Regions from separate parts of the Homo sapiens genome. Here all the other regions are linked to region 4. The links come from fine-mapping of genetic effects on gene expression. A gene starts in region 4. Each other region holds a variant in brackets. All regions are shown on one strand. Distances are from middle to middle. Region 1 has its middle 40 kb from the start of ECE1-AS1. Region 2 has its middle 46 kb from the start of ECE1-AS1. Region 3 has its middle 32 kb from the start of ECE1-AS1. Region 4 holds the start of ECE1 (endothelin converting enzyme 1). Region 5 holds the start of LOC124903872 (a long non-coding RNA gene). Region 6 has its middle 35 kb from the start of EIF4G3.

What was found. PIP is the estimated chance that this variant, and not a neighbour inherited with it, causes the effect.
Region 1: its variant is fine-mapped to the expression of ECE1 in whole blood (TOPMed, PIP above 0.99). The same link has a PIP of 0.9 or more in blood mononuclear cells.
Region 2: its variant is fine-mapped to the expression of ECE1 in T cells (TOPMed, PIP above 0.99).
Region 3: its variant is fine-mapped to the expression of ECE1 in whole blood (TOPMed, PIP above 0.99). The same link has a PIP of 0.9 or more in blood mononuclear cells.
Region 5: its variant is fine-mapped to the expression of ECE1 in whole blood (INTERVAL, PIP above 0.99).
Region 6: its variant is fine-mapped to the expression of ECE1 in whole blood (TOPMed, PIP 0.98).

The regions. Positions count from the first base shown.
Region 1 is chr1:21,331,705-21,335,863 of GRCh38, reverse strand. It overlaps a transcript of ECE1 not described here. Among named protein-coding and RNA genes, the nearest start is that of ECE1-AS1, 40 kb to the right of the region's middle. RefSeq lists an enhancer at 1,269-1,488. The variant A/T (reference allele first, on the strand shown) is at 1,595.
Region 2 is chr1:21,337,283-21,341,282 of GRCh38, reverse strand. It overlaps a transcript of ECE1 not described here. Among named protein-coding and RNA genes, the nearest start is that of ECE1-AS1, 46 kb to the right of the region's middle. RefSeq lists an enhancer at 1,840-2,782. The variant G/AG (reference allele first, on the strand shown) is at 2,339.
Region 3 is chr1:21,323,396-21,327,395 of GRCh38, reverse strand. It overlaps a transcript of ECE1 not described here. Among named protein-coding and RNA genes, the nearest start is that of ECE1-AS1, 32 kb to the right of the region's middle. RefSeq lists an enhancer at 3,119-3,679. The variant C/A (reference allele first, on the strand shown) is at 2,314.
Region 4 is chr1:21,288,181-21,292,180 of GRCh38, reverse strand. ECE1 (endothelin converting enzyme 1) reads left to right here and starts at 1,718. Exons shown (of 19, transcript NM_001397.3): 1 at 1,718-1,817; 2 at 2,025-2,111. The coding sequence starts at 1,767. RefSeq lists silencers at 1,637-1,816, 1,867-2,036 and an enhancer at 2,713-3,274.
Region 5 is chr1:21,259,587-21,263,586 of GRCh38, reverse strand. ECE1 (endothelin converting enzyme 1) reads left to right here. Exons shown (of 19, transcript NM_001397.3): 5 at 3,195-3,316. LOC124903872 (a long non-coding RNA gene) reads right to left here and starts at 1,504. Exons shown (of 3, transcript XR_007065530.1): 1 at 563-1,504. RefSeq lists a silencer at 1,117-1,411 and an enhancer at 948-2,147. The variant G/T (reference allele first, on the strand shown) is at 1,829.
Region 6 is chr1:21,209,863-21,213,862 of GRCh38, reverse strand. No RefSeq gene overlaps it. Among named protein-coding and RNA genes, the nearest start is that of EIF4G3, 35 kb to the right of the region's middle. The variant C/T (reference allele first, on the strand shown) is at 1,648.

The DNA of each region.
Region 1 (4,159 bases), 44 kb before region 4:
CACTTTCCCCTTCCGTCAAGCACTGGGTGGGTCGAAGCTTCCCAGCTCCCTGTGTCTGTGGTCTCCCTCATTTGGGAGCCTTTGCTCCTGGTGTTTGGTGCCTCTTCACCCCCAGGGTCTCACCCACCCCAGGCAGGAGCTCAGCTGGCCTGTAGCTTGCAGAAGGACCATTTGGGAAAGCTGGTGGGCCCTTCATTCTTGGTACCCGCCCTAAGAGCCTCACTGCGACTCTGTCCACCCTGGGTGAGAGCCCTCCAGAGTAGGCCCCCAGCCGTGAGAGCCCCCCACCCACTGAGGCTTGGCATCAGGTCGCCCTCGGTCTGAACCCTGCTATTCCCTGGCTCTGGGACTTTGGGCGGCTCAATCCACCTCTCAGGGCTGCAGCGTCCTCATCTTCAGGGTTGTGAGCACCCAAGGAGGCCCTGCCTCATTGTGGGGACAGAAGAGAATGGAGCAGTCACATGCCTGCCCCTAAGGAGCTGCACTCTAGGGGAGGAAGCTGGAGACCAAACAGGCAAAGCCACCCACCAGAAGGATCGCTCCGAGAGAAGAAAGGAGACAAAACAGGGCGATGTGGTGGAGAGTGGCTGTGAGGGGAGGGGGCCGCTCTAGAGGAGCGGCCAGGAAAGGAGGTGATGTCTGAGCTGGGACATGAAGGTTGAGGAGGGGGCAGCCGGGCAAAGACGGGGGCGGGGGAGATGAGAGTTCCCGGCTGCCGGAACAGCAAGTTTGGCACATGTAGGGGGTGAACGCTGGTGTGGCCGGGCAGAGGCAGTGGAGGGTGGAGGGAAGGCTAGGGAGAGGTGGGCCTGGAGGGGCAAGCCATGGACAGCCTTGTCTGTGGGGCAGGGGTCAGCATTTCGTTCTAATAGTGGTGGGAAGCCACTGGAGGACCCCACGTTGAGGGGCGACTGGGCTTGGTTTCTGTTTGGAAAGACCTTGGCTGCTGTGTAGAGCATGGACTGTAGGGGGCAGGAGGGAGGCAGGAGCGCGGGCCTCAGGATATTCGTCTGTCCTGAGGCTGAGGAGGCGTAGGTTTCTGCAGGATCTGGGATTTTGGCTGCTACTTCAGGGATGGGAGAGAGGTAGCCAGGCATCCCAGATGCTTCGAGACCTTGCTGGCAGCAGAGCACAGTGGGCAAAAGTTACCTGTGGAGCCAGACAGACCTGTCTGAACCTCCACTTCAACTCAGCCTTCCGGGGTGGGCTTGGGATTCTCCCAGAGTGACCAGTTCCCACCGTCCCAGCCCCTGGGGACCCAGAGAAACAGAGCCAGAGGGCATTGAGCTGGAGCCTGCCTCCCTCGCTTCCGCACACCCTGCCGAGAAGTGAGGGCATAGGAAGTGATGGCCGCAAGGGGATGCCCAGCCCCTCTGCTCCAGGGCTGCTGTTCACACGGCCACGCTGGAGGGAATCCTGTGGCTTTGTGGTTCCTTGTTTCCTGGGCTGGTCTGGTGGAAGATGGCCATGAGAAAGCGGCACTTCATCTTCCTTCGCCCCTGAGTGTTCAGTGGGTGGTTACTCGGCATCCTGTTGGGCTTCCGGTGTGGTGGCTGGGAGCCAGAGAGAGGAGGGCATGAGAGCTCACAGAGTC[A/T]CAGGAGGTGGGACTTGGAGGTCATCTAGGCCAACTTCCTCATAGGGCAGACCAAGGCTCACAAAGGGAAAGAGACTTACCTGAGGCTATACAGCAGGTTAGAGGCAGGACTTAGACCCTGATTCTAGACTCCTCATCCAGCACTCTTTCTAGATAAGATGGAGGTATGGAGGTTTTGGAGCCAGACAGATGTGGGTTGTAGTCCCAGCTCTGTCACTTAGTCCCAGCTGGGTGACCTTTGGTGAGTGACCATCTCTGAGCCTCGGTTTTCTCCTCTATGAAATGGGATGATGGTAGCACCTTTCTCATAGTGGTGTTGTGAAAAGTGGTTGATAATTTATGACAGGTTGTAAAGCTCACAGGACGGTGCACGGAGTTGGCCCTTGGGAGGTGGGAGCTGTTATTACCTTTGTGGCTCCGTCATTTTTTTTTTTTTGAGACGGAGTCTCGCTCTGTTGCCCAGATTGGAGTGCAGTGGCACGATCTCAGCTCACTACAACCTCCACCTCCTGGGTTTAAGCAATTCTCCTGCCTCAGCCTCCCAAGTAGTTGGGATTACAGGCAGGTGCCACCATGCCTGGCTAACTTTTGTATTTTTTAGTAGAGACGGGGTTTCACCATGTTGGCCAGGCTGGTCTCGAACTCCTGACCTCAAGTAATTTGCCTGCCTCGGCCTCCCAAAGAAGTTGGGATTATGGGCGTGAGCCACTGCGCCCAGCCCGTGGCTCTGTCATCCTAACCTCCTGAAGCACCGGAAAGAATGGCTGCGTGCTGGCCCTCACATATGCTGTTTTCTGATGAACGCGGTTAGGGAGGGAAGATGAGAATGGGCCATGGTTGGCCCATCTCTCTGCTACTTATTTTATTTCCCCACTATATTTGAGAGACTCCTTAGCCAGGCCACACTACTACCCACCCACCCCCCCGCCCCCCCCACGGCTCTGGTGGGCTGGAGCTGTGCTGTCTGCCTTCAGCCCAAATAGGGGTGGGGGAGGCGGAGGCACTAAGTGCAGGTCCCGGGTGAAAAACTGGGCAGCTCCCCCCACCTTCTGCATCAGATCCCTACCACGCACCACCAATACCTGTTTGTTCAGTGTGACCTAGTGGTTAAGACCAAGGGCCATGGGATCAACTTGAGCTTGAACCCTGGATCTGCCATTGAATTGTCACCAAGGACTTTTAGCAGGCGTGTCTTCCTCTCTGAGCCTTGGATTTCCCATCTGTGAAGTGAGGATAAGTCCCTCCCAGGAAGACTGCAAATATTCAGTGAGAGGAGCAGCACTCAGAGCATGCATGGTGCATATCTGGTGCTAGACTCCAAGAATTGGATGGCACTAATATTGTAACAGTGTTGACACATGTCCCAATTGTTTCTCTTTCCATAGCTGTTCTTAGAAACTTACTTCACCATCCGCCCACCCCACCCCCATCCTGTGTTCCCGCAGCCCCCTTCCCTCTAACTCCTCGCCTGACTGACTTCTCTCAGGGTCACCTTGGACTGAAATCTTTCTCCCCCTCCCCTCCCCTCCCCTCCCCTCCCCTCCCCTCCCCTCCCCTCCCTCACCTCCTCTCCCCTCTCCTCCCCTCTCCTCCTGTCTCCTCCGCTCTCCTCCTGTTTCCTCCCCTCCCCTTCCCTCCCCTCTCTCTCCTATCTCTCTCCCCCCCTCCTCCCCCCTCCCCCTGGACTAACACAGATCAAGAGTTCAAGCTCTGGCCCAGCCTGCCTGGGTTTGAATCCCAGCTCTGCCATTTACTGGAGCAGCCTCAGGCAAAGTACTTAATTCTTAGCCTCTATTTCTGCATAAGTAAAATGGGAATAAGGATAGTGCCAAGCTTAGAGAGTTGTTTAAATAAGCGACGAGATTCTTGTAAAGTGCCAGGATCAGTGCCTGCAGTACACTAAGTGCCTAATAAATGTCACCTGATTTATTACTAGGCAGGGTTCTGATGGAGCAGAGCCCCTGCCTTTTCACCTCTGCGTTCCCAGTGTCTGGCAGGGATGGGACTGGAAGGGATGCAGGCTCTCTAGGGGTTTGTACTATGGCATTGGAGAGTTGCCTTCCCAGTGAAGCAGGCCTCTCCAGAAAGGGGAAGGGACTCGGGCCACATCTTAAGCATGTCTGTCTGGCAGATATTTCCCACAACCCTGCTGCACACCACTGGGTGCTGAGGATGGGGTGGGGGAGGGTGCAGTAAGGCTGCCCTTAGTGAGCTCAAGTCCACGGAGGAAAGTGGGACAAAACGGCCCTGATACTATCAGAGAATGACCAGCCCAGGGCTGGCAGGTTGCTTCTGAGGAGGCTCCTGGGAGTGGTGATGTTTGATGTTTCCTTGTGGGAGTGACATAGTAGTAACTTCTGTCTGCATTAGGGCTTTATTCAGTAATCCTCCATTCTTTCCTGCCCGCGGTGTTTTACTAGTCTTAGCAGTAATAATAATAGCGTTTCTTGAGTGTTTGCTGTGTGCCAGGTACAGCACTAAATATTTTATGTTATAAATTTACTTAATCTTCACATCAACCCTGTGAGGTACTTATTATTGTTATTCCTGTTTTGTAGGTGGGAA
Region 2 (4,000 bases), 49 kb before region 4:
GGGGGCCGTGGTCAGTGTGAGTGAGACTGATAGGTCTCTCTCTCCCACAGTCTGATGGACAGGCAGGCAGACAGATACAGAGCAGGAAATTACAAGCGCAATTACTGTTGTCAGGGAGACACGCGGGGGGCTGTGGGATTGGACCGGGAACCTGACCTGAGGATCAGAAAAGGCTCCCTGAGCACATGGCATTAAAATCATAACCTAAAGAGCGAGTGGGACTGGGAAGAGTGTTGGGGGGCGGGGGGTGGAGGGAGCAGAATGTGCAAGAGTACAGACCGCTGTGCCTTCAGGGATGGTTCATCTGGAGGCACGGAGGACTGTGCTTAGGAGGTGGCCCGGAGGGTGCACTCAGGGATGGTCATATGAAGGACCTGGGGCTCAATCCTTAGGGCAGTGGGGAGCCACTCAGGAGTTTATTTTTTAAATTTAATTAATTTACTTATTTATTGAGACATAGTCTTGCTCTGTCACCCAGGCTGAGTGCAGTGGTGCAATCTCAGCTCACTGCAGCCTCAGCCTCCCTGGTTCAAGTGATTCTCCTCAGTCTCCCGAGTAGCTGGGATTACAGGCGTGCCACCATGCGACTAACTTCTGTATTTTTTTAGTAGACACCGGGTTTCGCCATGTTGCCCAGGCTGGTCTTGGACTGCTGACCTCAAGTGATCCACCCGCCTCAGCCTCCCACAGTGCTGGGATTACAGGTGTGAGCCACCGCACCCAGCCTACTGAGGAGTTTAGAGTCAGGGGAGTGACACGGTCGGATTTGCATTCTGAGATGGTCACAGGCTGCTTTGTGGTGATTGAGTAGAAGGAGTGAGGCCGAAGGCTGGGAAACCAGTGAGGAGGCACCTGAAGTGGCCCTGGGAGAAAGGTGGTGCTGCAGGCACCATCCAGTCCTCCTCTAGCCCAAACCACGCCCCTGGCATGCTGCCCAGAGCAGTCAGTGAAGACAGAAGGAGGCTGTGGCCCCAGACAGAGGTCCCAGACAGCCCCTTCTCCTGAATGTATTGACCCTTCCCCTCATCCTTTCAGGCAGATAACCAGCCGAGGGCCCTGGTCTCCAGAGCCTTTAATAGAGGAGAAAGAACAAGTTCCCAGATCGCTCTGAAATAAGGTAGAAAATGCTATGTGCCAACCTGGGGATGCAGCTCCAGAGTCATCCTGCCCATAGGTGTGTATCAGGGAAGCCTTCCCAGAAGAGGTGTTAACACTTGGTGGAATGCTTCCTAGACGCCAAGTTTTGGACACATAAAAAATTAGGAGGGGGGTTCACTTGTCCTTGAAGAGTTAATAGTCTGAGGGGCACAGTTTAATGAACAACCAGTGCTGGCGGAACCCCACTGTCAGGGTGGCACTGGAGTCCAGGACCTGGGGCCTGCCCTTTCCTTGGGCCCCTGAGGGCAGAGTGGCTGGGATGCCCCAGGCCTGTCTTGGTGGGCTGACAAGCCTAGGAATGGCTCCCTCCTCCCAACAGGGCCCCTTTGGACTTCCTGGGGGGAGGTGTAAACAGGGGAGCAAGTTTCTAGAGAGCATTCAGGAAATCGGCTAGGTGGGGATCTAACATCAGGGAGGTGGGCCTGGCTTCTGGGCCTTCTAAAGACGCTAGAGCGCTTGTATGAAAAGGGGATTAGGAACCACCAACTTCGAGGCCCCTGTTTGACAAGTGGGAAGACTGAGAGACAAAATGAGCATCTACTATGTGCCTGGCACTTAAATGTAATCTCTGCTCTTCACACCAACCCCAGGGAGGAGGGTGAGCCTTATTTCAGAGTTGTAAAAGCTGAGGCTCAAAGGTCACTTAGGGAATTAGGGACGGGAGCTAGACAGTGGCTCCCCGATTCCTCTAGATTATTATGGCTTCAGTCCCAAGCTGCCACTCAGTTTGGCAGAAACTTGGCCTTCCTGGGAAAGCCCACTGGGACAGGGATAGGACTGTTGAGCCGGTAGCCAGAGGCGTTGAGAGCTCACTGGGGCTGGACACTGGCCAGGCTCAAATGCTGGTTATTTATTGTTCACCTTTGCACCGCACTTGACAGTTAGACCTTTTCTTCCCCATTCACCGACTGTTCTTGGATTCCCACTGCCAATCAGTAGCAGAACTAGAACTTGAACTCAGGCCTTGTGACTCCCAGCCCAGTCCCCCGCCCTGAGATCCCCAGCTCCCCAGCTCAGATAACAGCCCCTCCCTGTCTGGCACCACCTGGTCCCCTGGCCTGGGTCTCCACTAACCCCCACCCCTAACACCTGATGTCCCAGCCTTTCTGACCACATAGCCCTCTAAGCAGGAGGAGCAGCCCCTGGCCCAGAAGCCTCCTCTCCCCATCCTCCTCCCACA[G/AG]CTCCCTTCCCTCCTTGGCTGGGAAGGCAGGAGGGTGGGCCTGGGGCAGCAGCCAGGCAGAGTTAGGTTACAGCGTAAACACAGTCATGTCAATATTTACCTCTGCCTGGAAGCAGAGCCTCCCACCTCCCTGCCTGACTCCCTCCAGCTGCCCATCCAGCTGCACATGGCCCGCTCCCAGGCTCTGATCTGGTCATTGAAAGCAAGGCCAGGGTGGCTTCCAGCCCAGGCTCTGCCACTAATCCTTGTCCTCCTGAACCACGGTCTTCCTTCGTGGGCCTCAGTCTTCCCATCTGTGAAATGACATGGCTGGAGCAGACTGACTCCAGGGCCGTCTTCAGTAATGACATGCAGGATGACAAGTATAATACTCTCATTCAGAGGATAGACTCGAAGTTGTGCAAATCTGGGTTTGAATTCCAGCCCCACCACTTCCTCACTGTGAGACTTGGGGCAAGGCACCTAACCCCTTTGAGCTCCACTTTCTTCCTCTGTAAAATGAGAGCCTAGCAGTACCCATTTTGTTTGCTGGTGAGGATTCATGAGCTATGTTTGTAGCACTTGGCACAGGATAAGGTTTGATTAAATGGTCATGGTGGTGGTTGTGATTCCAGATAAACATTTTGCGATTCTCTGAATCCAGACACTTGGTTGCGTCACTTGGAAACTGGAGCCAAGGGTGGGGACTCTAACCTCATGTCCTCCTGGTCCTCTGAGAGGCCACAGGCTGGGCTGGGGTGTCCAGGGGTTGAGAAAGCTCCTTGGTCAATACCACACACACCCCCAGCTGCCTGGCCATTGGAGTCCCTTCTTATTGGGCGGAGGTCCAGGGCTGAAATGTCCTCAGAGCTATGTGGCCATGAGAGGGATGAGGGAGGGCAGAGGGGGCAGAAGGGGAAGGAAGGACTCATTTCCTCAGCAGCTCTTTCACAGAAGCTTCGAGTCCATTACACACATGAGCTGTTCCTTCCAGCACTGGAGAGGAGGGGGCGAGGGGCGAGGACTGGCTGCCTCCAGGTGCCACATCTGAGCAGGCAGTGTGGGGAGGAGAGGGCAGGGAGGCGGGATCTGCCCGTGCAGCAGGAGTGGGCCTTGGAGACTGATGGGCCCAGGTTCAAACCTGGCATCCTCACTTTTTGCATTGTCACCTTGGACAGCGTGTCACCTCTCTAAGCTTTATTCTCCTGTCTCTAATATGGAGCTCCTGGGGCAGTATTTTGCCCAGTAGTTAGAAACGCTCAATCAGATCCTGTTTCAGAGTAGCCCAGCTGAGGGCTGGCACATACAGAGGACTCAGTCGGTGTCACCTGCTGTTATTGTCATGACTGTTACGATGATGACACAGGATGCCAGACTGGACCTCATGAGGGCAGAGATTGTACGTTTCTAAAAATTGTGGTATAGTATAATTTACTTAAGTAATGTATGCATATCTTGTACAGCTCACGTTTTACAAATGCACACACCTGCATACTACCTGGACCAAAGTGTGAACCATTCCCACAGTTCCCGTGTGCCTCCTCCATCAGTCCCCTGCAGCAGGTGGCCACTGGCCCTCTAGTTTGGCCTGGTTTTGAGCTTTCTCTGTGTGGATTCATTCATGTGTGCTCTTTTGTGCCTGGTTTTCTTCAGCTTTGGACAGCAAGGAATGTTTGAGGTTTG
Region 3 (4,000 bases), 35 kb before region 4:
AGGGCCTGGTGATTGATTGGAGTGGGGCAGGGGATCAGCCCGTCGCTTTGACAAATGAGAAAACAGAGCCCAGAAAGGTTGCATGAGCCACCGGAGTCACACAGTCCAAGCGTTAGAGCCAGACGCTAAGCTGGAGCCTCCCATCCCAGGGCCTTCCAGCCAAACATGGACTCCAGGCCCCAGATTCCTGGCAGCTGCTCTGGCAGAGTCCCTCTTCCCAGTCTCCTGGTGGCTTCGTCCCTCCCCATGCCCTGCTGCCTGCAGAGTCTGGCAGCTTCAAGGGAGTGGGGTGCTTTGAAGCATCTACAGGGAGGGCAGTGCTGTGACCTCCAAATTCTTTCCATGTGACCTATGCGACCCCAGCGAGACCAGGGCCCTCAGGACCCTGCCCTCCCCAGGCTTTGACGGAGTCCACAGAGGTGGGGTTTAGGGGCCAGAGCCACTGTGCAAACACAGCCCCTTGCTGGGGAGCGGGGGTGTTTCCAGGGACCCGAGCTGATGCCCTGTCATGAAGAGAAAGGAGACGCAGGGGCCAAAGGCTGGGGAGACCCTCTCTGTGCTCAGTGGGGTCTCCCCAGCAGCGGGGAGCTGCTTCCCCATCCAGGCTCCGTAACTGCAGGCTGCTGGCTGCTGTCTTAGGATTTCTGTTTTCTTCCCTGATGTCACCCCAGTTGGCACCTAAGACCTCTGAGATGCTGCTCAGTTAAATGGATTCTTAGCTCTGCAGGCCTCGCCCCACCTCCCTACGCTGCTCCAAACCATCCCCCTCCTGAAACCAGAAATATAACCCCCCTATTATGAACCTCATCTCCTCGAACCTGAGCCCCTATTTTCCTTAAGATTTGGATCTCTCTTTGGGGTTCAGGCCCCCCTTTTTTCTCACTAGGTTCTAGGACCTGCTTCCTGCTTAGGCACCTTCTTCTCCCTGGACCCCTTCTTCACCCTTAGACCCTGGACCTGGGTCTGATCCCTCTCTGGGGACTGGAGGCTCTGCTGTCTTAGAGACCAGCACCCCCGACACACACACCCCACGGTCTCCCAGGTTTCTCTAACCCCCAGGGGCTTCACCCTTCTCAGCTTGACACACAGTAGGCACTCAAGAGACAAGCTTGATCCTGCCACCCCTTCTCCCAGCCCTCCCCATTTGTGGCCCCTCCTGTACCTCCCCACCCTCCCCCGCATGGGTATTTTTGCTCAGGGAGCTCGTGCTGTGTGGCAGCTGAGTCTGGGAAGCAGCTATTGTTGGCTGAGAACGTGGGGCGGCAGAAGGATGGGGGCTGAGAGGAGGCAGGAAACATGCTCATAGGTCCAGGCCCAGCCCCCTGGTCCCCACACCCCACTGGGTCCAGGTGAGGCCATTTTAGGACAAGTCAAAGAAAGCCCCCTTCCCACAGCCGGGAGCTCCGTTGTGGAAATCACTGCGCTAGGGGAAGCTGGCAGCAAGTTTGGAAACAAGGTGGCTGGCGAAAGTGCCACCGGCAGCTTCGGAGAGCAGCCGGGGCACCCCTTGAGCCTCTGGGTGGCGTCGGGACAGTAGGCAGGACTCCCTGTGTGTTGATGCTCTGCTGCCGCCCCTTCTCGTTGCTTCTCGTACCTGTTTCATGTCTGCTCCGTGGAGCAGGAGGTGGGAACCACAATTTATTGAGCATTAACTTTGAGCTAAGCTGTGTGCTGAGCAATGAATGCATTGACTCAATTCATACCTCAGTCAGCTCCAAGGAAGTGGGTCCTATTGTGTCCCCATTTAATAGGTGAGGAGGCTGAGGCTTGGTGAGGTGAGGTGACTCGGCCAAGGCCACACAACTCCTGACTCTGTTTTTGCAGGCTTCTGTAGAGCATCTGACTTCAAGGCTGAGTGTGTTTTGCTTGTGGCTGAAAAAGACCAGGGACAGCGAGGAGGGAGGAGGCCAGCAAAAGAGGATGAGAAGCCTGCATGGGGAGCAGGGAGTGCCCTTTCTGGTGTGGGGACAGGCAGCTGGAAGCAAATTTCAATCTGGATGAGGAACTGGCACTGTTCTGTCCTCTGGCCCCTCTTGCCCCTTAATTGTGACGTTACTTCTCACCGCTGAAGGGGAACCGCTCGAGACGCTGGCTTGTCCTGGCACCTGCCTTGAGCAGAAGCTCAGAGAAAGATGCATGGAGGGAAAGAGTGGGGAGCAGAAACAAGCCATCAGGTACCAGGTTGGTGGTCCTGGAGCCAGTTTATGGTTCATCTAGTCACAAGGGCCCCGTCTCTGTGTTTAGTGTCAGCTAATGAAGAAATTGAATCCAGTACACAAAATTGGATTTTGCAGTTTTGCAACCAGTCTCAAC[C/A]CCCCTCTATTGTGTAACGTGTTTCTTTAGAGAAGGAAACCCACAACAAAACATGTGTGCTTTCCTCCTGGCGACCTCTGATACCTCCATTGAAGACATGGCTTAACGAGAACTGTTTTTCTCCTTCTTTCGTGATTTGTGACTTTTCTTGCAGGCTCCAGGTGGCAGTGAGTCAGCCATAAAGCTCGTTCAGGAAAGTCCAGAGGAATTTTTCTTCTGCATCAGGTTCAACTTGAGCAGTGCTGGGTGACGCCCAGTGACACACTCGGTTGGGGAAGGAGAGGCTGGCACACTCCACTAGCTGCTTATCTCTGCCACCTCCGCCTCCATTTGTCCCTGGCTTCCTGGGGCCCAGAGCCATCTCTGCCAGAGCAGGGAGGCCGATTAAGTGACCCGCGGGCTCCTTCTGCCTGACTCAGCTCAGCTCCAGCCCTCTCTGGGGAGAATGAGTCATTTTTTCAACCCTGAAATGTTTCTCTTCATGTGGGAAAGGGGCGGGGGTGGGGAGAGCCCCTCCTGGTCCTCTCCAAACTTGTTCCTCAGCTCTGAGGGACACTTCAGCCACAGACAAAGGGATTCTAGGGCAGCTCTGGAGAGGGCAGTCAGACCTGAAGTCAGTAAACCACAGCTGTGGCAGCCGTTGGAGTCTCCCTGGACAGAAGCACACTGGGCTGAGTGGGTGGAGTGTCCCTGTCAGTCCCGCACTGATGGATGGTTTCTCCCTTGGGGATGGGCCTCTGCCCCCTGCTTCCTCTGCCCACCCAGTTAAGAAGCTATATGAGCCCGGGTGTGGTGGTGCACATCTGTAGTCCCAGCTACTTGGGAGGCTGAGGCAAGAGGATCGCTTGAGCCCAGGAGGTCAAGGCTGCATGAGCTATGGTCGAGGCTGCATGGGCTATGGTCAAGGCCGCACTCCAGCTTGGGCAACAGAGTGAGACCTTGTCTCTTTAAAAACAAAACAGGCCGGGTGAAGTGGCTCATGCCTGTAATCCCAGCACTTTGGGAGGCTGAGGCAGGTGGATCACTTGAGGTCAGGAGTTTGAGGTCAGCCAGACCAACATGGCAAAAACCCATCTCTACTAAAAATACAAAAAAATTAGCCGGGCATGGTGGTGCATACCTGTAATCCCAGCTACTCAAGGAGGCTGAGGCAGGAAAATAGCTTGAAACCCGGGTGGTGGAGGTTGCAGTGAGCCGAGATTGCACCATTGCACTCCAGCCTGGGCAATGGAGTGAAACTATGTCTCAAAAAAAAAAAAAAAAGAAAGAAAATTGCCCCCATCTCCCATTTTCTGTCTCCCTTCACTACCTCATTGCTCCCCTTAGCCCCTCCCACAGTCTAACATGCTGCATATTTGATTTGTCTTATTTATTCTGTCTCCTACTAGCATATAAGTTTCATGAAGGCAAGGCTTATTTTATTTTATTTTATTTTATTTTATTTTATTTTTAGTTTTTTGGGACGGGGTGCCACTCCGTTACCCAAGCTGGAGTGCAGTGGCACAATCACAGCTCTTTGCAGTCTCGAACTCCCAGGCTCAGGTGATCCTCCCATCTCAGCCTTCCAAAGTGCTGGGGTTACAGGCATGAACACTGCACTTGGCCCAAAGGCAAGGATTTTGTCTGTTTTGTTTCCTGCTATATCTGTCGAGAACAGTGCTAACACGTAGTAGGCACACGATTTTAA
Region 4 (4,000 bases):
TTTTTTTTTATTTTATTTATTTACTCAGACAAGATCTTGTTGTGTCGTCCACGCTGGAGTGCAGTGGTGCAATCACAGCTCACTGTAGCCGCCACCTCCTGGCTTCAAGCGATTCTCCCACCTAAGCCTCCCAAGTAGCTGGGACTACAGGCGCATACCACCACGTCCTGCTAATTAAAAATATATAATATATAAATATATATATATATATTTTCTTTTTGTAGAGATGGGGTCCGTGTTGCCCAGGCTGGCCTAGAATTAGACTCAAGTGATCTCCTGCCTCAGCCTCCCAAAGTGCTGGGATTACAGGTGTGAACCACTGAACCCAGCCAGATTTCTGTGGTTTGTTTGTTTGAGATGGAGTCTCACTCTGTCACCCAGGCTAGAGTACAGTGGCACAATCTCAGCTCACTGCAACCTCGACCTCCTGGGTTCAAGCGATTCTTCTGCCTCAGCCTCCTGAGTAGCTAGGATTACAGATGCATGCCACCAGGCCCAGCTGATTTTTTGTATTTTTAGTAGAGATGGGGTTTCATCATGTTGGCCAGGCTGGTCTTGAACTCCTGACCTCAAGTGATCTACCCAACTTGGCCTCCCAAAGTGTTGGGATTACAGGCGCGAGCGAGCCATGGTGCCTGGCCTCAGCCAGATTTCATTTTAAAGGCTCATCCTGGCTGCTGAGGGGGCTGTCAGAGGGCAGGAGTGGAAGCCAGGAGACCATCTGGAGCCATTGCCCTCACTGTCCCTGTGACGTCAGGCCCCTCACCCCTCTAAACCTGTTTATTCACACATATGTGTGACTGTGAGAATCAAATTTGGAATGAGCAGAAATGCACTTTGCAAAGCTGAAAAGTACGCATAAATGCAGGGATTCCCGCCTTGCTAGAAGCGGAGAGTCCTTTGGAAATCTGCTGGGTTAGACCTCTCTGGGGTTCTTGGTTGGGACAGTGCTGGGCCTGAGTCCCTAACTGAACACCTCATATCCGAGAGAGCCCCCTTTCCCTGCCTAGGGTTATAGGAGAGGGCTCAGGGGCTGGGGAGGGGGGCACCTGGCTGAGGCTCCGAGTCTTGAGGGGGAAGATGGGAAAGAAGGGTCCCCTTCCTGGCTTCTGACTCCCCCTGGAGCAATGGTTCTCTTGTGTTGCAGGGAGGGCGACACCTTTGAGCACGGGGGTGACCACCGGACCACCCTGCAGCCATCCAAATGCACACACACAGCTCCTTTCATCCCGTGTCAGGGAGTTCTCTGAAATTTTCTGAAACTCATTCACGAACTCTGGCTTAAAGGCCTCTGAGCTAGAAAGGGGAACTGAAAGGGGACACCTACCTTTTTACCCCACCTTTTTTGTCTGGTCTTTCTAGCATTAACCCCCTAGACACACCTAAGGGCTGATGCCGGGGGGAACCTGTCTTGATTGCTCTGGGCCACATCGAGGGCACCTTCCTGATACTTTTGTTATCTGCCACTGGGGACCCGGTTGTTGAAGGGGGACTTAAGATTTTCTCGAAGGAGGGGTCACTGTGAGGGCCTTTCCTGCCTGCTAGGGGCTTCAGTTTGGGGGCCCCCACTCCCGACCTCCGGGGAAGGGAGGGGTCCCCATCTCCCCCGGGCCTCTCGGGTCTTGGGGTCTCCCCGGGAGGCCGGAGGTTGGGAACCGGGCGCCGGCGAACCGATCAGGCCCCGCCCGCGAAGGTGGTGCAACGCCTGGCCCGGCCCATCCCATCCCGGCCACCCGGGCAGCGGGACCAGGCGTCTGGGGCACAGCATGCGGGGCGTGTGGCCGCCCCCGGTGTCCGCCCTGCTGTCGGCGCTGGGGGTGAGGCGGGCGCGGCCTGGAGGGCGGGGGCGGGAGGCGGGCGGGACCCCTCCCCGCGCGGGCCGCTCCGTGGGCCGGTCTCGGTCTCGGGTGTCCAGGCCGGGGCGGGGCGCGGCGGCGGCGGCGCCAGGGTCGGGGCCGCTTCCCCATTCGGGCGCGAGAGCCATGGAGGCGCTGAGGGAGTCCGTGCTGCATTTGGCCTTGCAGATGTCGACGTACAAGCGGGCCACGCTGGACGAGGAGGACCTGGTGGACTCGCTCTCCGAGGGCGACGCATACCCCAACGGCCTGCAGGTAGGCGCCCTCCGCTCCCTCCCGAGGTCCAGGCGCCCCGGGCCCGGGCATGCGCGCTGCCGCTGCCGCGCCCCCCGCCCCTACCTACCCCGCCTCTTCCCCTCCCTTCCCCTCCCTCGTCCCGGCATCCGGGAGGGGCCGCGCCTCCCCGCAGCTGGAGCTCCGCGCTGAGAAGCCTTCCGGAGCCCACCAGTCTCCCCTCACCTGCCCCCGCCATCCCTAGAGCCTCCCGGCCACCTGCTTCTGGGGCCACAGCCCAGGTGGCAGAGTTGAAAGCACCCCCGAGACCCGAACTGGTCCAGTTCCCTTTCCACAGAAGGCACAGTTTGTGCATGTCCCGGGACTTGCCCAGGCCCTTTACCGGCAGAGTCTACGGCTGTTTCTGTTTTAGCGTGGAAAGCCCTGCATCCCTGGAACCCACTCCCCCAGTCCGGGGCAAACTGGGAAAGTTGGTCACCTTATCCGGGAGGCAGTACCACCCTCTTCCTCTTGCCCTCCCAATACCTGAGTTTCCTGGGGCCAGAAACCTGTTCTCTGCCCCCTCTCCCTGCCCCTTTTCCAGCCTACTAAGGAAGTCCAATTCCTCCCCTCCCCAGGGTCTCCGCCCGTGGGCATCCCATCTGCCCACTCCTGGGGAGGGCCCCACCCCCGTCCCTGCCTTGTAACAGGACATTGAGCAAGGCTGCTTTCTGCCCTCCCGTCCCTGGGGGGCTGCACTGGGACAGTTGTGGCCAAGACCTCAGTGCTGGAGGGGTTTGGAGCCAGCCAGGTGCGTGGGAAGGTGCTGGAAACGCTGCGGACACCCTAGGAGACCCAGTGATCTGGCTCTTGAGAAGCCAGTGTAGAAAGAGGAGCTGGGGCACCCCAATTCTCGGAGGACTTCTGCCAGGTAGACCAAGGGAAGTATTTGGGAGAATCTTGGGGCCACTTGGTGAACTGGCACACAACTCTTCCCAAAGGCGAGCTTAGGATGAATGGACGCTTAGTTGCCAGGCCCACTCCACTCAGATACGCCTCTTAGAAGCGGGAATAATCCTCCCAGCGCAGGGAGACACCATTGATGGAGTTCCTCCTCCAGGGTCACATAGGCCCAGGGGACCCAAACTCACAGTCCCAAGGGCTCTACCCACTGGGATGTGTGGTACCCCTGCTTAACCTTCAGGAACACCCCTGAGACCTGTAGGGATTACTGTCCCCACTTACAGATGTGGAAACTGAGGCTCTGAGAGGGGCAACCACTGGCCTTCGGTCACCGAGCTAAAAATCCGAGAGCGACACGTCAAACCCTGTCTGTCTCAAACCTCTTCCCAGTGGACTCTTCTTAAGAGGCTGAAGCCAGCAGGAAATTAGATTTCTGGGGCAGGTGCTTTTCCCTTCTCAAATCAAAACAGAATCTAATCAGCAATGTTTTTCAGTCTCATCTTCCACAGAAGGGTCTAAATATATCAACACAAAAGCATTTCAGAATTCACAGCAAAGTAATAATGCCATGTTGCTGTTATCCTCACAGCAGCCTGTTTGGGGTATAACCTTTTTCAGATGAAATAGCACATTTCTCTGGGGAGGGCCCCCGGCCAAGCAGGAGGAGCCCCGTCTCTGAAGCCAGCGACCCGGGTTTGAGTTCTTACTCCACTCACGACCTTGGGCTAGTGGCTTAATCTCTTTCAGTGGTGATGGCCTCACTGTGAAATGGATGTTAGAGAAAGTGGATGTCATACATATTATATGCAGCCTGCTAGGATTATTGTTTTATGACCCATGAAGTAAGGGCTGGCGTGGCCACATTATTGATGATAAAGGTGAGGGACAAAGAGAGGTTAGAGACATTCCTGGGGTCACGTCGCTGTTGTCTATGGTTGGAGTTAGTGTCCTGTCCCCAAATGGATACA
Region 5 (4,000 bases), 29 kb after region 4:
TCAAGAGATTGAGACCATCCTGGCCAACATGGTGAAACCCAGTCTCTACTAAAAATACAAAAATTAGCCAGGCGTGGTGGTACACGCCTGTAGTCCCAGCTACTCGGGAGGCTGAGGCAGGAGAATCACTTGAACCCAGGAGGTGGAGGTTGCAGTGAGCCGAGATTGCGCCCCTGCGCTCCAGCCTAGTGACAGAGCGAGACTCTGTCTCAAAAAAAAAAAAAATAAATATAAAAAAAGGAAACCTTAGGTGGGCATCCGGCCTCATCACCCTCTCATCTTCCAGATGTCCTTCCTCTCCAGAAAGGGACACTGGGCTCTGTTCTTGCAGCCACCACCTGTTGCTAGGGGCCTACTAGGTCCCTATCCAGGGCTGGTTCTGGGGCTGCAGGGACCACTAAGACATGGAATGGCGGAGGGGCAGCCCAGGCACAGCCCCTGCTTCTACTCCACATTGAGTTCATCCTTCAGCCCGAAGCTCAAACGAAGCTTCCCCGGGGCCTTGCTTGGCTTCCCTGGTCTCCTCCCGCCCTCCCCTTCAAGGCCTCTGGGATGTTCTCACAGCGTTCACCCCGTGCGTAATCAGATGCTCCCGCGAGTCCTTGGCTGCCGTTTGCCTCACTCACCACGCTGCATGCCTCACGTGGACAGGCCTCCAGTTATGTTGCCCACTGTCCCCCACACCCGGCCTGGCGGTTGCCAGGCAAAAGGAACTTTGTAAACAATGTGGGAAAGCAAGTGAGCGTGGCACCCAGGTGGTGGGGGCCAAAGGAATGGAGTTTGAACCTGGCCTGTGGCAGCCTCTCAGCGAAGGAGCAAGGGAGGCTGTGTCTGAAGGAGGCATTCCTTCTCCCTCCCGGTGATAATTTGGGGCTTGCAGACAGGTGTTAGGGAAGAGGGCCTCGGAACTCGCTGTGATTAGCACAGCCAGGCTGCTCCTGGGAGCTGTTCTTTAGGCCTCTTATCTTTGTGGCCTTGGGGGAGGGAGATGCCAGGCTCACTCATGGGCCAGAGCACACAGAGTGCCTTCCCCAGCGCTGGCCCTGGCATTTCAGGGCTTTGGCCGGAGCCAGATGTGGAGGGTGAGACGCTGCATCTGAGGCCTGGGGAGCAATGACGATTCTCCTGCTTTTTCTTCCAAGAGCTTCATTGGGAGTGTTGCCATAGGAACGAGGCCCCTGGGAGGGGCGAGGCACTCCCCTTTTGCTCTCCCTGATCTTCTGTATCCCAGCTTCCCCATTTCCGCCCTCCCCTCACAGAGTCCTCTTCTCAGAGCTGCCGTGGTGCCTGGGGGACATGCAGGTGTTTCCAGCACTTAGCAACCCAGTAGCCCATGGTCTCCAGGGCTGTACGAACCCTCCATAGCCCCTCGTTCAGGCCCCTGACCCTGTCTCTCAAGGGGCTCTCTTGTCTCTGTGTCTTCCTTCAGACTAGCCCCAAGCTGGTCCCGTCCCCCTTTCAGGGCCATCACCCTGAGGTCAGCAAGACCGGGGCTCGATGCTCTGATCAGTGAAAGCCATGGTGCTATTTATGGTGAGGATCGGGGGGCAGGGAGCTCTCGGGGTGAGGCTGGGAAAGCTGATGAAAGACTGGCCAGGAAGTGACTCATGTCCTTTGCTCCAAGTGACTACGCCAGACAGCTTTCTTTTCTCCAAGCAGTCCGCCTGCCCTTTCAGGCATCCCCGCTTGTCCCCACACTGTCCTGTCCTGCTCCGCGCAACCCAGTGGCCTCTCCCCTCCCTTCCACCTGGTGAACAACTTCAGCTTTCAGAACCAGCTCAAATGGAACGCCCTCTGGAGACCCCTCTTCTCCCCACCCCTCCGAAGG[G/T]AGTGACTTTTCTCTGTGTTCCATAGCCACGTGCGTTGTTCATAGCACTGTCGTGTCTTGTGGTCATTTCTTTGAGTTTCTGCTGGGTGCCAGGCACAGGGCTGGGCTCTGAATTTTATAGGCATAAATAAGACCCGCTTTCTGTCCCAAGGAGCTCACGGTCTAATGGTGGACACAGGTATGCAGAGCGGTGAGGGCCTTTGGGAATGAACATCTTAGGAGAGCCTTCATCAAAAAGATGTCCCCGTAGAGGCCTTGAGGTTGAGTAGGATTTTAACAGGGTCCCATGCAGAAGCTCCTTGGGGACAGGGATGTTTTCTCTTGTGTCCCACAGCTTACACAGGGCCTAGCATAGAGTAAGCATCTAGTATCTGGTCAGAGGGTGGATGGATACAGTTCTGCCAGGAAAGTCTTTGTGAAGGAGCTGGGGTTTGAGGGATCTTTGAAGGAGGCAAAGGAAGGGGCTTCAGGGCCAGAGAGAAATGAACATGAAATGAGGGAATGTGTCTGGAGCAGTGAGTTTCCCAGAGGAGGCAAGAGGGACAGATGGAATTGAGGGGTTTAGAGTATCTGGCATGGCCTGGAGCAGGGCTCTGAGAAGAAGGCTCATGCACAGAGCCCCAGTATATAGTGGGTCCCTTGTGGACCTGAGTGGCAGGAAGCGGTCATCTTCACCAGGTGCACCCACCGGAGCATTGCCTTTAGCAGGTGGCATCTGGACCAGGGCACTGAGGTGAGGGAGAAGGGAACAGAATCTCCGGGTGTCTGGGGTAAGGTCTGAGAAGCCACTGCAGGAGGGAGATGCTGCTTGCTGGAGTTGGCAAGGGCGGTGGAAAACGGCCCCAGGAGTTGGCTGTAAGCCTGGTGAACGTGCCTAGCCCCTCCAAGGAGGAAGCAAAAAGTAAATTCATAATGAATGAGCCTTTTGAGTTTCCATCCAACTTCAGTCTTTATCACAAGAAAGATCATCTGGTATCTGAAAACCAAGACCGGCCTCTGTCCCATGCACCAGGCAGGGGTGTTCGTACCACACGTTATCCACAGGGGAAGAACACTGTCCTGCTGGTGGGCACGTGCGGTCAACCCGGGGACACGTCTGTGAACCCAACTGGCAGAGGGAGAGAAACGTGGTCGATTCTTTTTCTTTGCAGTCAGCAAAATTTCGGGAGCGCCTTCAGCTTGCCAGGCTCTGTCCAGGGGCCCTCACATACTCACGGTGACGGCATTCCTCACTGCCACTCCGACAGGCAGATGTCAGAGCTCCTTTGCAGCTGAGAACACCAAGGCTCCGAAAAGAGGGACTGCCCCAAAGCCACCCAGTGGGCAAGTGGGGCCGCATTGCAAACTCCACTGTCTGTTGTTCCAGAAAACTCCACGGCCAGCGTGAGCGAGGCAGAGAGAAAGGCGCAAGTATACTACCGTGCGTGCATGAACGAGACCAGGATCGAGGAGCTCAGGGCCAAACCTCTAATGGAGTTGATTGAGAGGGTGAGTGCCTCGGGCTCTCCCTCCCCAAGCCCCGGCCCATGCCACCTGCCCGCCCCCTGGCTTCCACTCCAGCCTTCTGGTACCACTGGCCCACCTCATACGTCCAGCCGGTAGCACCAAGAGAAAGACAGAAAGAGAGAGAGCGAGTGTGCGAGAGCACATGTGAGTGTGAGCACATTGCGTAGCTGCGTGGGTGGGTTGTCTGTGCATGTGTTTGTGTGAGAGTGTGTGTCAGCATCTGTTGTAGATGTCTGTCATCTGTCTGTGTGTCTCTCTGTGCATCTGTGTGTGGGATGGGGGCCATGTTTAGAGGGAAAATATTCCTCCACGTTGCTGCTGTTTTTTCCTCAGGGGTTATGTTTGTGTGTGTGGAGGGGTGTGTGCCTGTTCCAGAAAGACCCACAGAGAGTCTTGGCCCAGAACCAGAGCCCTCCCCGTGAGCAGGGACCCAGGCCACTCTCCTATACCTGCTTACTCCTGAGCAGGGGAAGACATCTTTCTTGCTTTCTTGGGCACTTCCCAGACTCTGAGGCTTCCTGGTGCAGACAGTAGGTGTCTGTGGATGTTTTCTGCCTGCCTCGTGTTCCCTGGACAGCCCTGCCTCTTAGCTTGGCTCCAGGAAAGCATTGCAGCAGGGTTGGTGGCTGCATGCGCTGGGGACTATGCTAGTCCCCTCCTCTCTGG
Region 6 (4,000 bases), 78 kb after region 4:
AAACTGAACACTTAGAATGGATTAGACAGCAAGAAATACTTCTGTGTCTGTGTGGGAATTGGTATAGGATAAAGGGGGCACTTGTGCAGTGGCACACACCTGTAATCCCAGCACTTTGGGAGGCCGAGGCAGGAGGACCACTTGAGCTCAGGAGTTCGAGACCAGCCTGGGCAACACAGCAAGACACCTGTCTTTACTAAAAATACAAAAATTAGCCTGGTGTGGTGGCACATGCCTGTAGTCCCAACCACTCAGGAGGCTGAGGTGGGAGGTTTGCTTGACCCAGGATGCAGAAGTTGCAGTGAGCTGAGATCACGCCACTGCACTCCAGCCTGGGTGACAGAGTGAAACCCTGTCAAAAAAAAAAGGGAGGCTGTGACTCCATCTCTTTAAAAGAAAATAGGGAAGCTGGGTGCAATGGCTCATACCTGTAATTCCAGCACTTTGGGAGCCTGAAGATTGCTTGAGCCCACGAGTTTGAGGCCAGCCTGAGCTTCATAGCAAGACCCTGTCTCTACAAAAAAATACAAAAATTAGCAGAGTGTGGTGGCACGTGCCTGTAGTCCCAGCTACTCTGGAGGCTGAGATGAGAGGATCACTTGAGCCCAGGAGGTCAAGGATGTAGTGAACTGTGATTGCACCACTGCACTCCAGCCTGGGTGACAGTGAGAGTCTGTCTCCATCAATCAATCAATCAATCAATCAATCTAGTAGGAAAGACAACTAGACTCAGGCTAAAGAAAAAAGTTTTAAAAATCATGGAAGAATTTTAATTTTCCTCATTGATATCCTTAAACCACACTTCATTTCCAAATACACACAATAACAAAGTCATACTTAAACCTAACATGATACAGCTATCCTGGATGCAACCAAAAACACACCAACCCTTCCCCAGGAGAAGATGCAAAATCCTTGGATAATGCTCATTCTTCTCTTTTGATATCCTGTAACCTAAATACCATAATATAAAGTTTACTATTATTTTATTTATTTATTTATTTTGAGACAGGGTCTCACTCTATCACCCAGGCTGGAGTGCAGTGGTGCAATCTCGGCTCACTGTAGCCTCCACTTCCTGGGCTCAGGTGATCCTCCTGCCTCAGCCTCCCCAGTAGCTGGGACTACAGGTACACGCCACCACCCCCAGCTAATTTTTTGTATTTTTTGTAGAGACAGGGTTTTGCCATGTTGCCCAGACTGGTCTCAAACTCCTTGGCCTCAAGCAATTGCCTGCCTTGCCCTCCCAAAAAGCTGGGATTACAGGCGTGAGCCACCACACCCAGCCTAAATTATTAATATATCTCATGTTAGATGATAAGGGAATAAGAGGGAAGAAAACAAAAATATTTGGCTAATCTATATACAAACATTCATAACAAAATAAGGAAGAAATACTCATAGTTATTACTGTCCTCATTTCTGCAACTGGTCATGTGGTCAGAGCTGGTCTTTATAATTCCTCTTCCTCCACTGCCCTTTCCATATTCCTTTTCCCTTAGCAAGCACCTCATCTGGTCATGGTTCTTTGCCTGGTGGGGTGACCCAAACCTTCATTCCTGAAATTCCTGGACCGTTAATAGTCCTGCCTGAACTGGGCTGTTGTCGCTTTTGTTTACTTTAGTCACAGGACGTGGTACTGATGCT[C/T]TCCACTTGCAATGAGGTTATGTCCTGATAAATCCATCTTCTTTTTTTTTTTTTTTTTTTTTTTTGAGATGGGGTCTCACTCTGTCACCCAGGTTGGAGGGCAGTGTGCAATCTTGGTCACTGCAGCCTCAACTTCCCAAGCTCCGGTGATCCTCCCACCTCAGCCTCCACGCACTATCACACCTGCCTAATTTTTTTGTATTTTTAGTAGAGACAAGGTTTCACCATGTGGCCCAGGCTGGTCTCGAATTCCTGGGCTCAAGCGATCTGCCTGCCTTGGCCTGAGTGCTGAGATTACAGGTGTGAGCCACTGCACCTGGCCCTGATAAATCCATCTTAAGTTGCAAATATCCTAAATTGAAAATGCACTTAATGCATCTAACCTACTGAACATCATAGCTTTGCCCTGAAATGTGCTCAGAACACTTCCGTTAGCCTACGGTTGGGCAAAATCATCTAACACGAAGCCTATTTTGTTGACTAGATATGTTGACTATCTCACGTAATTTATTAAATACAGCACACTGTAGATTACAGTATCAGCTGTCTACCCTCGTGATCGTGTGGCTGACTTGGAGCCGCGGTCGCTGCCACTGCCCAGCATCATGAGAAAGCATTGTACTCCATATTGCTAGCCCAGGAAGAGATCAAAATTGAAAATTCAAAGGATAGTTTCTACTGAATGTGTATCACTTTTGCCCATCATAAAGTCAAAAAATCATAAGTCAAATCATCGTAAGACAAAGACTGTCTATATTAACAGATGCCCTAAGGGAGCTCATGTATTCCAGATATACTCTCCCTTACCTCTGTTGTGTAGCAGCAATACAATTTTCCCTTAGTAATCAAGACCAGTCATCCCAGCCAGTACAGTGACCTCCTTCTTTGCCTGTTAATTTTGGGTATGGGGAGCGCAACGCGACTGAGTGGCAGCCTCAACCTCCAGTTCAGTGTAATCATTGTGTTGCCTAGTGGAAGCATTTCTCCCTTTGGAACCAACCTCTAAACTAGCAGAGCCTAAGGTCATGGGGACGGGAAGCAGAAATGCTGCTAGTGCATCAGTAGGGATAAAAGTGATTGGGGGCCAGGCGCGGTGGCTCACGCCTGTAATCCCAGCACTTTGGGAGGCTGAGGCAGGCAGATCACAAGGTCAGGAGATCAAGACCATCCTGGCCAACATGGTGAAACCCCATCTCTACTAAAAATACAAAAATTAGCTGGGCATGGTGGCACGTGCCTGTAATCACAACTACTCGGGAGGCTGAGGCAGGAGAATCGCTTGAACAAAAGAGCCGGAGGTTTCAGTGAGTCGAGATTGCTCCACTGCACTCCAGCCTAGTGACAGAGCGAGAGACTGCCTTAAAAAAAAAAAAAAAAGGTGATTGGAGTCACTCCTAATCTCCTAATTTCTACCCTTTGACTCCTGGCCCCATGAAACTTGGATGGTCTCGATCTCCTGACCTCGTGATCCGCCCACCTCGGCCTCCAAAAGTGCTGGGATTACAGGCGTGAGCCACTGCACCTGGCCCCACTTGATTATTAAAATCCTCTTCTGCTAACTGGGTGTGGTGGCTCACGCCTACAATCCAGCCTGGCCAACATGGCAAAACCCCATCTCTACTAAAAATACACAAATTGGCTGGGCATAGTGGCGCATGCCTGTAACTGCAGCTACTCAGGAGGCTGAGGCAGGAGAATCGCTTAAACCAGGAGGTGGAGGTTGCATTGAGCCAAGATCACGCCATTGCATTCCAGCCTGGGCGACAGAGTGAGACTTGGTCAAAAAAAAAAAAAAAAAGGAGAGTAGTTATCCACAGAGGATGGTGGGGCCGTGCTTCAAAATCCTAAGGGTCTGCACTGTGATTCACCTAGAGGGGTCTACCGAAGACTGAAGACAACTCTATCTGCTAATGACACTCCAAGTGCCATTGGATCTGCTGTATCCTATGGCCCAAGTGGCAGTGCAGCTTGCACGGCAGCCTGGACCTGTTTCAGAGCCTTCTCTTGTTCTGAGTCCCACTCAAAACTAGCAGTTTTTTCCCATTCCAGAGAGTGTAGCTATAAATAAATAAATAAATAAATAATCTAAAACTAGCAGCTTTTCAGATCACTCAGTAAATGGGTCAGAGCAAAATACCCAAATGTGAAATACATGGTCTCCAAAATCCAAAGGGACCTACCAGGCCTTGTGCCTCTTTCTTGGTTGTAGGAGGGTCCAGCTGCAACAATGTATTCTTCATCTTAGAAGGGTTATCTCCTTGAGGTCTGCAGTTCAAGACCAGCCTGGCCAACATGGTAAAACCCAGTATCTACTAAAAATTCAAAAATTAGTCAGGCATGGTGGCACATGCCT